Homo sapiens: one gene and its partners. The protein of the gene in region 1 purifies or fractionates together with the protein of each later gene. This does not show direct contact. Each region holds a gene or a part of one and is shown on either strand. Other genes may lie near its edges.

Region 1 (4,879 bases):
GGAAGAATGCACTGTGTATGGTCTGCCAAGCAAATCTGGATTACCTGTAAAAATGAATTACCCAGGAAAACACCTGTCAGTAATATTACTAATTCTCAATCGTCTTCCCTTTTTGGTTACTATTATGACAAATCCTTAAGGATAAAGCAACTGACCTCAAGACATAGAGATATCCCCAGTTAAAGAGAGTATTTTCGAGACAACAGGAGAAAGCCCTGGAGGGAGAATAAAGCAGGCCCAGGACTACAGGGCATATGGCCCAGGCATGGCTTGCTCTCCCAGCCCTGTTCCTCCCGACTGTCAACAGGTGGCCACTTCAGTGCAGGCTGGGGATGGGCTCCGGGAGCAGATTTACACAGTCCTCTAACCCCGGGGCTTCCACACCACATGGAGAATGCTGTGACACACTTTCCTAGTGCCTCCCTTCTGGGGTCTACACATTTACAGTCTTGCTTCTTTGAACTCTAAGAAGTTCCTGACTGGTGATTCTATATTTTAAAAAAAGAGAGGTAATATAATGTGTCAGTGCTTTGAAAATAGTGATTGAATAAGACAAAATAGCTTTTTTTTTTTGAGATGGAGTCTCACTCTATTGCCCAGGCTGGAGTACAGTGGCACAATCTCAGCTCACTGCAACCTCCACCTCCCGGGTTCAAGTGATTCTCCTGCCTCAGCCTCTCAAGTAGCTGGGATTACAGATATGCAGCACATGCCCAGCTAATTTTGTATTTTTAGTAGAGACAGGGTTTCACCATGTTGGCCAGGCTGGTCTCTTAACTCCTGACTCAGATGATCCGTCCGCCTCAGCCTCCCAAAGTGCTGGGATTACAGGCATGAGCCACCGCACCTGGCCCAAAATTGCTTTGTACTAAAAGATCATAATGAACAAATTTTGGCATACACTTAGATTACGTCAGCCAAGATTTCTTTTTCATTTCAGGTTGAGAATTTTCCTTCAGTTTTAATTAACTTTTATTTTCCAGTTTGTTGTTGTTGTTGTTGTTGTTGTCGAGACGGAATCTCTCTCTGTCGCCCAGGCTGGAGTACAGTGGTGCAATGTCAGCTCACTACAACCTCCGCCTCCTGGGTTCAAGCAATTCTCCTGCCTCAGCCTCCCAAGAAGCCTCCCAAGTAACAGGCACCCACCACCACACCCGGCTAAATTTTTTGTATAGTAGAGATGGGGTTTCACCATGTTGGTCAGGCTGGGCTCAAACTCCTGACCTCAGGTGATCCACCCACCTAGGCCTCCCAAAGTGCTGGGATTACAAGCGTGAGCCACTACGCCTGGCCTATTTTCCGGTTTTTGTAGTTTAACTTTACACTTACTTAACATCGTCCACAAGCCAGGTCATACATAAAGTCTTGAGAGAATTTTATAAAATGACTATCTGATATAAAAATATTTAGATATGAAGAGAAATTAAGGAGAATATATATACTAACAAGAAGTTAAAATTGTAAAGCAAAATGTTCATGACTGAGGCATGTCACCCCTGCCAGACAGGTGTAAGTCAGCCAAAGACACCATCTGCCTTGCTTTCACACTGCTCTCTATAGAGCTAGCAACCCTGGGAAACTTTCCAGGTCTAGAAGGAGCAGAGGTTAAAAGAAATGGTACTAAAATGCACCCTCCCTTCCAGATAGTTTTGGTCTTCAGCAAATCAGTTAATCACTGCTCCTCTCCACTCTGAAAAGTAGATCCATGACAATCACCAGTGAAGAGAAGATGACCCATAGCACTTGGGAGTGACAGACAAAAAGGATGACAAAATAACTTCACCTGATCCCATTTGCCATGCACTAATACCTCTGGTATACTTTTCAAAGAATCGGACACTTTCAATTTTATAAAACATATAATGCCACAGACATCCACAAATTGCATGTTCATAAACTAAATGTACTAAAATTAAAAATACAAATTCAGGGGTTCAAGACAAGAAAAAATAAATTCCATATGTTGTGACCTGAAAGGAATGGAAGTGGGAGTGAGGAAGGGGAAACAAACTGTAGCGATGTCAATAGTAAACTGACACATCTTTCTCAAAAAATACTCAACAATCAACAAATGTTGGCTATACACAGTGGCTCATGCCTATTATCAGCTACTCAGGAGGCCGAGGCAGGAGGATCATTTGAGGCCATGAGTTCAAGACCAGCCTGGGCAACAGCAAGACCCTGCCCCCAAAATAAAAAATGTTAAGTGCCTAATTAATGACGGGCACTATGGTAGGGACTGGAAATAAAATACAGTCCCTGCCCTAAAAGAGATCACCCATCTCTCCAACTAGACTGTAACAGACAATTACAATACTCTGTAATAAGTGCTACCAACAGAGATGAAGGTACATCAAACTTAGAACTGTCTAGGCCACCTACTCAAAAAAAGGAAAGGATGTGGCTATAAAACCCAGCTTTGAAATTTTAACTAACATGGTATTAGTTAGGGTAACACTGATCACGAAACTCAAACAGTAACAGATAATGTGATAATGTGGACTTTGACCAAAATACTAACATTACAAGCTTCAGTTTTTGTTTTTGTTTTGTTTTTTTTTTTTTGACACAAAGTTTTACTCTGTTGCCCAGGCTGCAGTGCAGTAGTGCAATCTTGGCTCACTGCAGCCTTCGCCTCCTGGGTTCAAGCGATTCTCCTGCCTCAGCCTCCCGAGTAGCTGGTATTACAGGTGTGCACCTCCGTGCCCAGCTAATTTTTGTATTTTTAGTAGAGATGGGGTTTCACCATGTTGGCCAGGCTGGTCTGGAACTCCTAGCCTCAAGTGATTCGCCTGCCTCTGGCTCCCAAAGTGCTGGGTTTACAGGTGTCAGCCACTGTGCCCGGCCTTTCAATACTTCTTTTCTATATGGTGATTCCTCAACTCCCTTTAATCAGAATGTAGGGCAAGTGGTACCTAGGGACATTTTGCTTAGAATACAAGGCAAACAGGGAAGTTTCCTTGAGCAAAAATCACAGCAGACTTACCCTAAAACCATAATCCCTTTTCTTCTCAGTTAAACATTTCTTAAGTCACAAAGGCATTAAATATTATAAAATTTACATTATATATACCAAGAAACTGATTATTCTATGGCTTTGTTTTTCGGTGGTGATGAGGTGAAATATGTTTCTGTAATACAGATTAAGCATCCCAAATCCAAAAATCCAAAATGTGAAATGCTCCAAAATCCAAAACTTTTTGAGCACTGATATGATGCTCAAAGGAAATGCTCATTGGAGCATTCTGGACTTTGCATTTTTGAATTTGGGCTGCTCAACCAGTAAATATTTATAATGCAAATATTCCAAAATCCACTTCTGGTCCCAAACATGCTGGTCCCAAGCGTATTTAGATGAGGGATACTCAACCTATACCTTTTTGTTAGAAATGTATGCACTAATAGGCCAGATGCAGTGGCTCACGCCTGGAATCCCAGCACTTTGGGAGGCTGAGGCGGGTGAATCACCTGAGGTCAGGAATTCAAGACCAGCCTGACCAACATGGTAAAACCCCATCTCTATTAAAAATACAAAATTAGCTGGGTGTGGTGGCATATTCCTGTAATCCCAGCTACTTGGGAGGCTGAGACAGGAGAATCGCTTAAACCCAGGAGGTGGAGGTTGCAGTGAGCCAAGATTGCATCATTGCACTCCAGCCTGGGCAACAACAGTGAAACTCCATCTTAAAAGAAAAGAAACGTATGCACTAACAAACATAAAAACCATCCTATAGGTAACAAGAACAAGGCCATACTTTCATGCATCTAAACAAACATAAGCATACAGGCTACTAGGCCTCCTACTTGCCATGGTAAATTGTCACTATCTGACACTACCCTGCAGTTCATGGAGCAACACATACTCACCAGCTGGCCTGCCAGCAGCGGCATATACTCAATGATGGCCAGGCGGACCCTCCATTTGGCATCTTCTGCCAGCTCCACTATGGCAGGAAGGAGAGACTGAGAGAGCTGACGGATTCCAATCACTTCATTTACACAATCCAAATTGGAGATGATATTCAAACGAACGTCAGGACACTGCAAGTACACAAGCCCCAAAAGACCACATTTAAAAATCAAGTACTCTGCCCAACAGTCTCCTGTCAGGGTAAGATAAAAGGTGAGGTAAGACTCAGGTGAAAAAAAAATGGATAATCTTGAAGAAATAATAGTGAATACATAAATAACTCAAGGAACATAAATGATCTTAATCAGAAATTTCAATTAAAAGTCCGTAATACTAAAGACTACAAGAAAAGTCCGTAAGATGGTAAAGAGCATAATCTCTGGAACTAAATCAGATGCACTCAAATTTCAGATCTGTCATTGTTGAAAGACCTTGCTCAAGTTACTTTAACCCTCTATGCCTCAGCTTTCTCATCTGTAAAATGGGATAATTGGCCGGGTGCGGTGGCTCACACCTGTAATCCCAGCACTTTGGGAGGCCGAGACGGGCAGATCACGAGGTCAGGAGATCGAGACCACAGTGAAACCCCGTCTCTACTAAAAATACAAAAAATTAGCTGGGTGCTGTGGCAGGCGCCTGTAGTCCCAGCTACTCAGGAGGCTGAGGCAAGAGAATGGCATCAACTCAGGAGGCGGAGCTTGCAGTGAGCAGAGATTGCGCCACTGCACTCCAGCCTGGGCGACAGAGCAAGACTCCGTCTCAAAAAACAAAACAAACAAACAAACAAACAAAAAGGGATAATAATAAGACCTACCTCACAGGATTGTTGTGAGAATTGCATGTAAAAATACATGCAAAGCACTAAGGCTCATGCTTGCCATGTAGTAATTACTCAGTAAATATTAGGTATCATTATAATTTTTGATACTATATTTAAACTTAAATAAATGAAACTTTTTAAACAAAGAC
Region 2 (4,181 bases), on another chromosome or scaffold:
CTGGCCCTTTTCTGTTTGTGTCTTTCTGTAGGACAAGACATACGGGAAGGCCGCACCTTTGCATCTTACTGTCTGTGTAAGTACAGTTGACCCTCCCTATCTAAGGGTTCTGCATCCTTGGATCCAACCAACCACAGATGAAAAATAGTCCGAAAAAAAAAAGTATGTACTGAACATGCAGAATTGTTTCTTGTCATTATTCTTTAAACAATACATTGTAACAACTATTTCCATAGTATTAGGTATTATAAGTAATCCAGAAATGATTTTAAGTATACAAGAGGGTATACATAGGTTATATGCAAATACTACACCATTTTTATATCAGGGATTTGAGCATCCATGAATTCTGGTATCTGAAGGAGGTCCTGGGACCAGTCCTCCACACATACTGGGGGGATGACTGTAATAAAACAGTCTTACAAGGGCCTGTTTCTCTACTGGCCGAATCCATCAGCCTTTGCTTGACATTTCCCATTCGGGATTTTGGTACTTACCATTCCCTCTTCCTGCGTTGCCATTCCCCTGAGCTTTTGCAAGGCCAACAATAACTGATTGTTCTCTCTTCCTTTAGGTCTGAGCTTAAAAGTGTTCTCTCTATCTAAAGCATCTCTACCCCCACACCCTTGCTACTCTTGGTTAATCTCTATCACAGCACCCAGTTTAGGATCACTGGACACATAATGACAGTGATTAATGATCTAGGAATGTTTGCTATAATTTCTGGTGGTGAGGGAGGGTGTTAAGTTCAGATTTCCATTTTGGGCAGAGGAGTTGGCTCATATAATTAGCAGACTGGTAGAAAGCCCTGTAGGTCCTTAGAAGTTGGACATTTGGAAACAGCTTTGTTTTTTGCTATCACCAAACCTCTTAGATTCTAATATCTTGCTTTTAATGTTTATTATCCATGCAATTATCTGAATCCACTATTATCTCTGAACAGAAAAATGCTGTTATATGCTTATTTTTCTATATCCAAGACTTATTCTTGAGACAGTCCCGCTTTAGATTACATTGTGATTTCTCTTGAACTCTTTTTTTAAAGCAGGTTTGAAAGTCCACATAGTTTATTTTCATTGGTTTCCCTCTGTTTGTGTATTTATTTATTTGTACCATGTCATGAGTTAGTCAACGTAGGTTTGCTTTAAAATAATTATATGTTCAGACCCTTGTAAAATCTTAAAAAATGTATGTGTGTTTGGATGTTGCAAATACAAATATCAGTCTGTTAGGCAAAAATTGTGGAAACCACAACTAAGGTTTGCGTCACTTGTTTAATATACAAAGTCTTTCACAGATAATTATTTTCTTTTTCTTAATTTGCTTTAGTACACATGATTCACAAAACAGTAAATTGTTAATGCAAGAGAATTATGTAAAACCAAAATAGTACAAATGCCTAATTTCAAAAACTGCACACAGTTAAAATAATTTTTCCTTCTTTGTTTTAATGCAGTATCCAGTTTCAAAATGGGCTTTCTTTAGATGTGGAGGAAACACTGCAGCCCAAAATAACAGTACTTCCTTTCAACTGTGTTGATATGTAAAATAGCACCATTGGGCTGACTTAGGAAAGAAAAAAGGTTTTCATCTTTCTTAATTAAAGTATTATATAACAACTATAATAATAATGATACTAATAACTTTTAAGAGCTGTACTCTGTTCTATAATATTCATTTTCAAGGCAAGGAAGGGTAAACTATATGGGGCAGATAGAAAAATCTTCCCACCTCAGCCCCAGGACCCTTATAATGTCCCTTAATGGTGTCATTGTTCTAATGAGCTAATTTTCCTGCCAAAGAATAGATGTTTTAAAGAGTACCCAAGGACCTTTTGTAAAACAAGATAAAAAACCATGAGGTCGTCTGTCTGGGACTATAATCACGTGTAGAAGCAGCGCAGAGTGAGATTTAATGCTGGGGTGTTTTGAAAGACTCCTTCAGTCTACACCTATCTTCCTTCAGGTTACACATTGCTGTATCTCAGGTTGTTGGGCTCACTTTAGTTTAGATTTTGTTCATTTTTATTTTGTTTTTGTACTTAAGCTTAATTGCCTTTTGGGCTTTACTTTTTAAAAAATTGGAATTTCTTTCTTTTACAATTTAATCTTTACTCCTGTACGATAAGAGTGATAGTTCTTTAAAAAAATTAACAGCATCAATGTCTGGTTTAATACTGAAGATTCATGATTATAAAGAGCCAAGGTTTTTAACACAACTGTAATTTCATTCTTCAATTTTAGTCCTTTTTTTTTCAATTCCATTTTATTTCTTCCACGAGCAGGTAAACATGCCTCAAAATTTGCATTCCGTAGAGCAGTTTTTCTTTTTGAAGGGTATAGTCAGTCAGTCTACAAAAAAGCACTGCCACAAAGCTAAATCGTTTTATTGTTTGAAAGGGCAAATGTTCCATTGCCACACAGAATGTAAAAAGAAAATAATCAACATTAGATTTTAAATGCAGGTAGTTATTTCAGATGTTTGAACCATAAACAAACAACCATTGCTGAAAAGCTTCTTAAAAGCTTGAAATTCAGAACTTCAGGGTTTCAAAAAGTCAGAAGAATAGCAAAATCAAGTGTTGACTTTTAACCTGCCAGGAAGCTATATTATATTATTTTCTCATTTCAACAATGTCCAAGCCCATAAAAGTTAATTGCAAGAATTTAGGTATAGTTTTAAAATCCCATGTCCTCTTTTACTATTAATAGAATAATGCTTACCTTTGCTTTTTATTCTAGAAATGTTTTCTTAGTGTTAAAAGTGTAGCCCTTAATAAATGAGGCTTTATTTTAGCCGATCATCCTCCACTGTGAAATCAGCCCTGCAACGTATCTTGTTTAGGTTCGTACAGAATTTAAACAATATTTTCCATGTTAATTAAAGTAAATAATTATTTTACTTTCAGAGCAAACAAAAGAGAAATCAACATTTCTTTGTTTGCTGGTGTCTGGATGTTTTTCCCCGGGAATATCTGTAAGCAGCATGTTGCCATTACTAACCCACAGGGAAAATGGATTAGTAAAAAGCTTAGGACAATTAACAGGAAAATTGCATTAAGGTTAATCCCTTGGATATGGTGCCATGGTTAAATCACCCACAGATTTGTTATTCATAAATGTATTTATCTTAAATATTTAAAATGGGCATTTAAGAGGAATTTAATATACAGTTTGTTTAAGGTCCACATGTTTTTTAAAACGTTAATTACTTATATCCTTATTTATACAGAATTTTTGGTTCAGTTTAGTTACCTCAACTTTGCTTTCCCTGTGCTTATAACAAGTTTTAAGAAAGATGAGTTTTAAACCTTTTGTTTCCTGACTGAATACCTTAACATTTTCCCCGCATATATACATGACTACACACACGCCATACACACACACAAAATTGACATTGTTTACCTTTTGTTTATTTCTAGGAATCAAGACTATCTGGACTCAGTGTCAGCCACTACTAATATTTATACCATCTTTCTCCTCATTTAAAGGTTTGTTTTTTTTTTCCCTTTTTCCTATGATCTGTGAAGAACAAGCACACTGATAATTACAAAGTGCATCCATGTGATACCCAGATTTGTGCAGTGTGATACTCATGCTTTGGTTCTTATGGCCATCATTGCCTTTTCATGTTAATAAATAATGACAGCTAACAAAAATAAGTCACCTTTTTTAATGTAGGACATCTTTCTTTGACAGGCTACTGTATCTATAATCACCGTTAATCTAGCTCACTGCAATGTCATTCACACATCAGTTTTACATGAATATGCAAAGAACACAATAATCAACTGTCAAACCTAAACGATTAATTACTTATCACAGAATCTGTTGAATATTTTTGTTTTCTAACTGAGCAAGGGAAATCCTGTCAGCTTTTAAAAGTAAGGGCTAGATTCTTAGTCATAATTACTCATCATCTGTCAAGTTGACACCTCATATGGATGAAATAAGCCTTACACATTTGATTTAATAACAAAAATAGGTAATTTTATTCCCCTATTGTAAGTACTTCATAGTAACAATTTATTTATTTCACAACTCTGCTATAGGCAGATTGATTGTTTTATCTTTCTATACTTTTGGATTTTTACCCTTTAGAGATGTGAACTTCATCTGACTTTAAAATGAGGACACTTAATTTAATGCTTTTAAAAATCATAACTAACTTTTGTGACTTTG
Region 3 (4,879 bases), on another chromosome or scaffold:
TACAAACTAATGCATAGTCATGCATCGTTTAACAGGGATACATTCTGAAAAGTGTGTTAGATGACTCTGTCATGGTGCAAACATCATAGAGTATACTCACAAAAACCTAGATGGTATAGCCTACTACACACCAGTGCTATATGGTATAGCCTATTGCTCCTAGGCTACAAATCTGTACAGCAGGTCACTATATTGAATAATATAGGCAATTGGAACACAATGGTATTTGTGTATCTAAACATAGAAAAGGTACAATAAAAAACAGTGTAAATGATTTTTAAAATGATACACCTGTATAGAGCACTCAATATGAATAGAGCTTTCAGGATGGAAGTTACTCTGGGTGATTCAATGAGTGAGTGGTTAGTGAATGTAAAGGCCTAAGACATTACCCATACACTGGCTATGCACTTTATAAACACTGTATACTTAGGCTACATTAAATTTATGAAAAAATAAAGTAACTGTGCTACAACATTACAACTGCCTCCATATCACTCAACGATAGGAATTTTTCAGCTCCGTTATAACCTTATGGGACCACCACCATCCCACACAGTCCATCACTGACCAAAACATCATAATGTGGCACGTGACTGTACTTGTTATTCAAATTATATTACTTACTTTTAACATTTGTTACATAACTTTAGAAGTATTAAAAATATCCCCCATCAAATTCCATGCACTTCTGAGAATGATAAATTACAAATACATTTATACATTTCTAAAAGTCTTCTTTGATCCAACCCTTCCATGTAAGCAAATATCCAAATAATGTCAACCTCAAACTCATATACTGGCAGTTTTATTTCCATTTTTATCTTGTCAATTTTCTTTATTGAGAGAGAATTCACACACCATAAAACAGCTTGTCCAGTTTCCAAAAATATTAATTTTGGAGAGTATTACCATCTTAACAATATTAAGTATCCTCATCCATAACCATGGGATATCATTCTATTTATTTAGGTCTTCCTTAATTTCTTTCAACCTGTTTTGCAGTTTTCAGTGTACAAGACTTGCATTTGTCTTGTTAAATTTATTCCTAAGTATTTTATTTTTGATGCTATCACAAATGCAATAATTGCATTTCAGATCATTCATTTCTACTGTATAGAGAATTGAATTTTGTGTACTGATCTTTTATCTTGCAACCTTTCTGAACTCATTTTTTAGTTAATAGTTTGGTTTCAGTTTTGGGGAGTTAAAAAATGTGGATTCATTCAAATTTTCTGTATACAGATCATGTTATCTGGGAATACAACTAGTTTTATCTCCTCCTTTCCAATCTGGATGCCTTTTATCTTTCCTGCCTAATTGCCCTGGCATCTTGACTATTTTTATACCTCAATTTTTCTAATAATTGTTTAATTTTTAAAAAACAGATACTGCAATCACGACATTACAAACACTGACTCATCTATTTTAACATATATAAAAGCAAAAACAGTCAAGGCTCTAACTACAATTTGAACTCCTTAACACTTAAGCTAGATACACATACACAAACACACACACACACCTCATTAAAAGACTTACTAAAAATCAAAATTGTAGTTACATGAAAAGATTATACTCAAAAATCAGAAGCACATGAACTACAAATCTTCTAGTTGCATGCCTTTTCTTAAAGAGATCTGCAGATAAGGAGTTTTTTCTGTTTTTTGGTTTCTTGTTATAGGACACCACATTGCAGCCAGAAAAAAAAAAAATCCATAGGGAATAAATCTGGCATTTTAATGCAATAAATCGCTTTTTTTTTTTTTTTTTTTTGAGACAGAGTCTTGCTCTGTCACCCATGCTGGAGTGCAGTGGTGTGATCTCAGCTCACTGCAACCTCCTCCTCCTGGGTTCAAGCAATACTGGTGCCTCAGCCTCCCGAGTAGCTGGGATTACAGGTGCGCACCACCATGCCTGGCTAATTATTATGTATTTTTAGTAGAAACGGGGTTTCACCATGTTGACCAGGCTGGTCTCAAACTCCTGGCCTCAAGCAATCCACCCGCCTCAGCCTCTCAAAGTGCTGGGATTACAATCAATTTTCTTTTAAAACATGCATATGGGTAGTGAATGTCCTCACAAAAATCTAACACTCTGATCTGCTCTAGTGCTCATAATTCATAACTCATTATTTAAGACTATCTAGTTTTAAATTGCTCATATAAAAGCGTATTTATTGAATAGCTAAAACACAGAAAATCTCATTTCAACAGCATTTGAAAATTATTAAATAATACTATAAGAAAAAGATTTCAGGCATTCCTTTGAAGTTCATAGATGGCTTGCTTATAATTATTCATGAAAGCCATTTTAACAGACTCATTTTTTAATCATATAATTTATAATAAAAGGTTATAAAGCCACATATTAAAAAAATTATTTCATTTTCCAATTGCAGCTGTAAGACCGAACTTAATTTTTGTCCATAAAAATACCAGCTAGTAGCCACAATTTATTTCACTCAGAGGAATACATATAAATTAAGTTAAAAACAATACCCAATCATTACCTCTTTAACAAGGTGATTGACAGATTGCTGCCCACCTCCAGAGCCCCACACACTATCTTTACGCTTTCCACCTTTAGACATACTCAGAAGCACGGTAGCCTTATCCAGAGCAGCTCTACAGAGAAAGAAAAAAATTTAAGTTTGATAGCTGGACATACCTAAAGTTTACTAAATTAGGGATAAAGCTGACAAAATCCTATATGCCCTAAATCTTTCACATAACATAAAAGCAAAATAAAATTCAAAACACTTTTTCAAAACAAAAAGGAGCAAAAAGAAGTTGATCCTCATGTTAATATTCTCATGCTCTATTTCATTTCTCATTCAAGAAAAATCAAAACACATTACAAAATAACTGATCTACACTGAGAAGAAACACTTCACATATAATTAACTTTCACCTAGATCCATGCCTTCCTACCCAGGGACACCATTCCACTATGATGTGAAGTAGCCCTAGAAAATTAAGTTAATATATAGACCTGAGGAAAACTAAGACATGGCTGAGTCCAAGTCTCCAAGAAGTTAAGAAAAATCAAATAGCATAACTCCCAAATATCACATTTAGTTATACCAAATATCATATTAATTATACTAAATCACAAGAGTGAAAAAGATACTTTCTGACTAAGATTTCTACAGTAGATAAATACAAAATAAAACTATAAATCAGGCCTCTCTTCTTAAGGTTATCCATCTTATTAGAATATTAAACTATTACACAATGCTAGAACCTGAAAACAGAACTTAAAGATCTGTCCAATGGTTTTGTTTCATAAATAAAGAAACTGAGGCCCAAAGAAGAGTGGCTTGACATGAAGGTAATTAATGATTTAGCTAAACTCCAGAACTTTTCCATTATAGTACTGTCCTCTTCCTGGTATATCATGCCAATAGTCTCTCCATTTTAACAGTGGAGAATATAGAGAAGTGACAAACAGATGTACAGAGTGTCTGATTAACACAAGTGTCATTTCAATAGGATCCTGTAGAATTTTCCCCTATTTTGAAATTCTAAGTAGGAAAAGTGATTTACTTACCTAGCCTGCACACAATCTACAGTTCCTTTGTAACTATCAATATAGGTATTACATAAAATTCCATCTCCAACAGCTCTAGCAATAAACTGGCCCACCAACTGTAAAAAGGAAAAAAAAAAGAGCTATAAAAAAAGTTAAATAACTTTTATAGGTCACAATTTCTAAATACATAAATGATGAAGATTAGCTGAAGTACACAGTCAGTACCTAAAAGATGCTGGAATTTTTTTTTAAAAAAAAACCTATGTAGTACCTGTTATGCCTGGCATACACTCCCACATCTTAACCTTCAAGTTAAGTGCCAGAGTGGGGGCCACATCTGTTTTGCTCACTAATGAATCCCTAACACCTTGCACACTGCCTGAATACATAGCATATGATCAAATTTTTTTTTTTTTTTTTTTTTTTTGAGACAGAGTCTCGCTCTGTCGCCCAGGCTGGAGTGCAGTGGCACGATCTCAGTTCACTGCAACCTCCACCTCCCAGGTTCAAGTGATTCTTCTCCCTCAGCCTCCCGAGTGGCTGGGACTACAGGCGCACACCTGGCTAATTTTTGTATTTCTAGTAGAGACGGGGTGTCACCATCTTGGCCAGGCTGGTCTCGAACTCCTGACCTCGTGATCCGCCTGCCTCGGCCTCCCAAAGTGCTGGGGTTAAACGAATGATTTAAGGTCAAGTGACGTCCTCTCTTCTTAAAACAAAACAAAAAAAAAGGACTAGGTTCTCTCAAAAACTAATCAAAGGAATTTATCTTGTGGAGAAAAAAAGTTGTATAGAAATAGTTGAAAGTATGTTCACAGCATTACTTATTATAAAAACTGGAAATTGGTGTCCAAAAATAAAGGTATGGTTAAATGGTATACACATAAAATGGTATACTATGTGGCCACAGGGAAAGATATTTACCATATTTTATGGTATGAGAAAAATCAAGTTTATAAAATAGCATAATGGTATGATTCCATTTTTTTAATTTTAAAAAATTAAGGATTTATAGAAGCCATACATTGATATATACCCACAGAAAGGAGAATGGAAAACTTAACACCAGTAGCAGTTTTTGCTGGCCTTTCTTCTTTCTGGCTTTTATTTTTCAAAAATTCTACAATAAATATAAACTTATGTAATCATTTTCTTAAAGTATGTGTATTGGTATAAAAGGAAAAAATGTCTGCATTAGAATCACCACTTAATATCTCATACCGAGTATTGTCTGTCATTAAGTTTAACAGAAACAGCATTTAGGAACTGACATGCCTATATTCTATTTCTAAATTAATGTTTTAAGTAAAGTGATTTTACCTTGATTAAAAACTTTTGACAATAG
Region 4 (4,879 bases), on another chromosome or scaffold:
GGTGTTTTGGGTTTTTTTTTTTTTTAAGATTTAAGTTCCTTGAGTCTCCGTCTCCTCCTCTGTTAAGTAAAGCAAATGCTTACCTCTCAGGATTGTTGAAAGGATTAAGTGAAGTAACAAATGTAAAAATACCTTGTGGAATGATTGCCACTTAGCAGCCACTCAAAAAATATTTGCCAAACCTCTGTTGTAGAGATGTTGAAAATCAAATGAGGTTAATTACTGTGAATGTGTAACAAAAAGTAAAGCACCACATAAATGCAAGATAATATCATTACTCAGACCAACCTGAGCAACATAGTGAGACCCTGTCTCAATTTAAAAAAAAAAAAAAAAAAGGTAATATCATTACTCATAAGCCAGGAAGTGTGGGAGTGGGTAGGAATGGAGAAGCCTGCCTTTTGATCCTGGCCAGACCATCACGAAGGCCTTTTTACCTGATACAAGTAGAGAACAAATAAGGGGAGACACTGGCTGGGGGAACAGGGCAACAGAGAGAGATGCACAGGTATATTCAGTTACCTTTCCCTGGTCCCCACCCTCAAAATACTGCTTGGACCCAAAACTAAAGAGGACTAAGCTGATGTATTGAGCTGATGGGAGGAAATGGCATTAGTGCTCTAGAGGAAGAGAGAAGGTGACATTATGAAGGAGTAATTATATATAAGAATTTTTTTAAAAGCTAGTCTGATTGCCAGCTAAAATGGTCTCCTAGGGGTTATTCTGGTTTCTGTTTTGTGTCAAGGTTTTTTTGGTCGGATATGCCGTAGTGCCTGCTCCATCTCTGGAGTTTGTTTCCTATTAGGAAGGGACTTTGTTTGCCTGAGGGAGCTGGCACATGCTGGACGTTGGTGCCATGACCCATCTGAGTCACATTCCTGACCTCTAGGGCCTAATAGTTGGCCCCATGCCTGCTCCTCTTGGGCCACACACCCTGGGCTCTGTTGTTGAAAGCCTCCTTTATGTGCTCTAGGCTCCCAGAACCCTGGCCGAAGCTCACCTCCCCCTGGCTATGTTCCTGAGCGGCAGCAGCACATTGCCCGGCAGGGGTCCTACACCAGCATCAACAGTGAGGGGGAGTTCATCCCAGAGACCAGCGAGCAGTGCGTGAGTATAGGGGGGCTGGGATATGCCTGTGGCCTGTATCAGCAGACCAAGCTCATAACAAGGGGTTCTTAGTAGTCACAGTGCAGAACTGAGGGACATGAACCCCATTTGAAAGCTCTTTTATAAACCAGGCCTGCCCAAATATGGATTGTCCCTTTTTAAGGGCCAAATAACAATTTCTGCCAAAGATGGGATCTAAAGGATCTAAACTACATAGTTTCCTTGTTGTTGGGTGAGGATTTAACAGATTTTTCTTCATCGTGGTCCTCTCATTGTTCCTACAGGCAGGCACCACCACGCCCAGCTCATTTCAGTAGTGTTTTAACATACGACTGGTTCTAAAGTGACAGGTTATGTTTTTCATTGGATATATTTTAGTTTTGCTGTTTCTTGATGAAAGGTAAGGAGTAAACCATATCAAAATTACACTGTAGGATTGGTTAGGCTGATCATTTATGATGGTAGACAGTTGTATTAGTTATCTATTGCTCCATAACAAATTACCACAAACCTAGAGGCTTAAAACAATATACATTTATCATTTTCCAGTTTCCCTGGGTGAGGAGTCCAGGCATGACTCAAATGGGTCCTCTGCTGAGGGTCACACAAGACTGCGATCAAGGTGTCAGCCAGGCTGCCTGCCTTTCTTGAGTTTGAGGCTCTTTTCTAAGCTCAGATGGTTGTTGCCAGAATTCAGTTTTTTTGTGGCTGTAGGACTGTGGTTCCTCTTTTCTTCTGAATGTCACCCAAGGGCTTCTCTGAGTTCCCTTCCTAGAGGCCACCTGCAGTTCCTTGCCATGGGGCCCTCTCACAACATGGCAGCTTCTTCAAAGCCAGCAGGAGAATCTTTTGCTCCAATCTGCAAAGATGGAGTCATAAAACATCACATAATCATAGGAATGAATATTCTATCCTCTTTGCCATAGTCTATTGGCTAGACTCACGTCACAGGTTCTACTTGCACTAAAGGGAAAGGCAGTTCATTGGGACTAATTGGAAGAGGGAGCAATCACCTTAGGGTGTGTCTACCACAGTGGCTCAGCCATTTTAGTGGCTAGCTTTTAAATTGGTGGCTTACTTGATGCAAATGGCAATTTGGCTTAGTGAACTCACCAAGCATGAGATCTCTAGCTTCATTCTGGTCTTTTCAATAAACTTGCTTTGATGTAAAAGAAAAGGCTGCTCTTACACTTTCTGGGCTTGGCCTGAGAAGGGGAAATTTCTTAAGGGGAAAATGTCCAACAGAAGGGCCTGTGCTGTCACATGGGAGATCTTATAAAAAGCTGATTCTTGTAACTTTTCTTTCATTATTCAAACTATGTAGGCTATGAGAAGCCCTTTGTACTCTTCTTCCTTCTATACTCCTGCCTTCCAGATAAATTCATGTTTGGAGTAGTGACCTGGAGTGCCATTAGCTGCAGATTTCCTTTTTGGGCATTTTACTGACCATCCTTTCTGGTTTCTCTAACCAGGGCACTTCTGGACATCAGCTGTTCTAGGGGTGACTTGGGTGTAAAATCCCAGAGATTGCAGATGAGCTTGATTGCCCTCAGTCTATGTCCCTCGCCATGGTCCTATACTCTGCCCCCTTCACTTTTTTACTTTGCCTGCATGGCCCTGGAAGGCCTGGGAGGATTTGACTCCCAGTGAGGACAGACTTTTAGAAAGAGGCCAAGGAAGGCAGTGGTTGGGGATTGCCAAGGTCCTCCCCCAGCGCCTGCCTCTTTAGCTGAAGAGAATTGCTCCTGGTAACAGGCCATTTGAGATCAATCTGCTTAACAGGAACGAACACTGCATAGTATGTAATAAAAGAATATTCCAGTGTGACTTTACTGAAAAGTGAAAATATGATAAGTTTTGTTTTTTCTTTAATCAGGTTTAAGCAATAATTGCATCTATTTACTAATTTTTAGAATGAGCAAAGCATGATTCATGTTAATTTTTTGGCCTAATTTTTCCAACAAAAATTATGTCAGTCCGGTCGCAGTGGCTCATAGCTGTAATCCCAGCACTTTGGGAGGCCAAGGCAGGAGGATTGCTTGAGGTCAGGAGTTCAAGACCAGCCTGGGCAACATAGCAAAACCCTGTCTCTACAAAAAAAAAAAATTTAATTAGCTGGGCATAGTGGCACACCTGCCTGTAGTCCCAGCTACTCGGGAGGCTGAGGTGGGAGGATCACTTGAGCCCAGGCTGCAGTGAATTGCACTCCAGCTTAGGTGACAGAATGAGACCCTGTCTCGAACAACAGCACCAACAACAAAATGCTAGCACAATGTAACGTCCTTCACTCCCTGCTTGACTTCTAACCATAAAGAACGTCATTTTTTACAAGAGCGTTCACAGGACTCAGCAGTTTTCCCCAAGGCCTCTTGTGAATCTTTGGTATTCTTCCTCCACCACACCTGCCATGTTATTTATTTGTCCATTTTGTCTTTTTCTGTTAACTAGTCTAAATTTGCCAAATATGCATCTGATGGATTTAAAGCAATTCTCTCCGATGTTGGTTTCATCCACTTTGGCTATCCTATATCCTTAGCAACATTTGCAGTTTTACTTTGCAATTAATTTGCCTTGATTGGCAGATTTTAAAAAATCATGTGTGACAACATGACTTAAAGCATTTGAAATTATGGGTGGGGATGGACCCTGGTATTAAATGGGAAAAAATATTTGAGTTGGAAACTAATTTTATGGAGGTCGTTAGTGAATTTTCATAATTCTGATACTTTGTTTCCCTATGTAATTTTTTAAAATTAATTAAAAAAATATTTAAACAGAAACAAGATCTCACTATGTTGCCCAGGCTGGTCTTGAACTCCTGAGTGCAAGTGATCCTTCCCTCTCGGCTCCCAAAGTGCTAGGATTACAGGCATGAGCCACCAAGTCTGGCCCCTATGTAATGTTTAATGTTGGAGCTCGGATAATGAATATTCTGAAATTGAAGACCCCACCCCAACTTTTGTGCAGAGAAAATGAAAGGGAGGACCTTCAGGACATTGATTGGAGAAAAAGGGATTCCAAAGGCCTTTTGTTGCTGCATTTGACCAGGGGCCAGAGAAATATTTTATTATATTTAGATATCTATTACCTCTGCATTGGACCAGGAACTGGGACATTTTTGTTCTGGTATCAGCTGTGCACTAACTAGTTTTATGACTTTAGACAAGTCTCCTAACCTTTCTAGGCCTGTAGTGCTCATCTGTGAAATGAGGCAATCCTTGTCTTTGTAAATTATAAATTATGGAGTGTAAACAGAAGCATTAAGGTCCCACCCGAACTCACTGGAAGGCTCAGCAGGGTAGTACCATCTCCAGCGCCAGGCTCCAGTGTTAATGAGCCAAGAACATGCCAACAAGAAAAGCAGAGCCTCTGCTTTGCTCTCCTGCCAGAGCTCCTTGGGATGCCAGCCAAGCATTTTTCTCCCTCCTGGAAACTTGCCTTTCAAACTAAGGGGGAGGATGGTACCTTTCTAACTATTCTTCCCATTGCATGGGGAGAAAAAGGACACTTTCATGTTTTGACAAAAAGGCCCATTTGCTGGCCCTTGCCATAAAGCCTGGGTCACTGGGGGGAATTGGGGCTGGGGGTGTGGCTTCATTGTTTGACTTGCCTTACAGATGCTGGATCCCCTGAGCAGTGCAGAAAATTCCTTGTCTGGAAGCTGCCAATCCTTGGACAGGTCAGCAGACAGGTATGGGACTGTGGGTGGTTTGGAGGGTAATGCATAGGCATTTTTGGAATTGATGGGTTGAGGAAGAAGAGTTAGCTCTGG

Evidence for each region. The genes of interacting proteins can lie anywhere in the genome.
Region 2: the proteins of PPP2R1B (region 1) and MARCHF1 purify together in Homo sapiens (affinity purification with mass spectrometry, with the first as the bait; one study listed by BioGRID). This does not show direct contact.
Region 3: the proteins of PPP2R1B (region 1) and PDCD4 fractionate together in Homo sapiens (co-fractionation; one large-scale study listed by BioGRID). This does not show direct contact.
Region 4: the proteins of PPP2R1B (region 1) and MAP3K3 purify together in Homo sapiens (tandem affinity purification; one large-scale study listed by IntAct). This does not show direct contact.

The regions. Positions count from the first base shown.
Region 1 is NC_000011.10:111,748,292-111,753,170, forward strand, and holds part of PPP2R1B (serine/threonine-protein phosphatase 2A 65 kDa regulatory subunit A beta isoform), read right to left. Parts: intron 4,042-4,879; coding exon 3,868-4,041; intron 1-3,867. UniProt on the Homo sapiens protein: The PR65 subunit of protein phosphatase 2A serves as a scaffolding molecule to coordinate the assembly of the catalytic subunit and a variable regulatory B subunit.
Region 2 is NC_000004.12:163,523,463-163,527,643, forward strand, and holds the end of MARCHF1 (E3 ubiquitin-protein ligase MARCHF1), read right to left. Parts: 3' UTR 1,256-4,181; downstream 1-1,255. UniProt on the Homo sapiens protein: E3 ubiquitin-protein ligase that mediates ubiquitination of TFRC, CD86, FAS and MHC class II proteins, such as HLA-DR alpha and beta, and promotes their subsequent endocytosis and sorting to lysosomes via multivesicular bodies.
Region 3 is NC_000010.11:110,888,304-110,893,182, reverse strand, and holds part of PDCD4 (programmed cell death protein 4), read right to left. Parts: intron 3,651-4,879; coding exon 3,553-3,650; intron 2,628-3,552; coding exon 2,513-2,627; intron 1-2,512. UniProt on the Homo sapiens protein: Inhibits translation initiation and cap-dependent translation. May excert its function by hindering the interaction between EIF4A1 and EIF4G. Inhibits the helicase activity of EIF4A. Modulates the activation of JUN kinase.
Region 4 is NC_000017.11:63,680,793-63,685,671, forward strand, and holds part of MAP3K3 (mitogen-activated protein kinase kinase kinase 3), read left to right. Parts: intron 1-973; coding exon 974-1,107; intron 1,108-1,543; exon of another isoform or gene 1,544-1,966; intron 1,967-4,724; coding exon 4,725-4,798; intron 4,799-4,879. UniProt on the Homo sapiens protein: Component of a protein kinase signal transduction cascade. Mediates activation of the NF-kappa-B, AP1 and DDIT3 transcriptional regulators.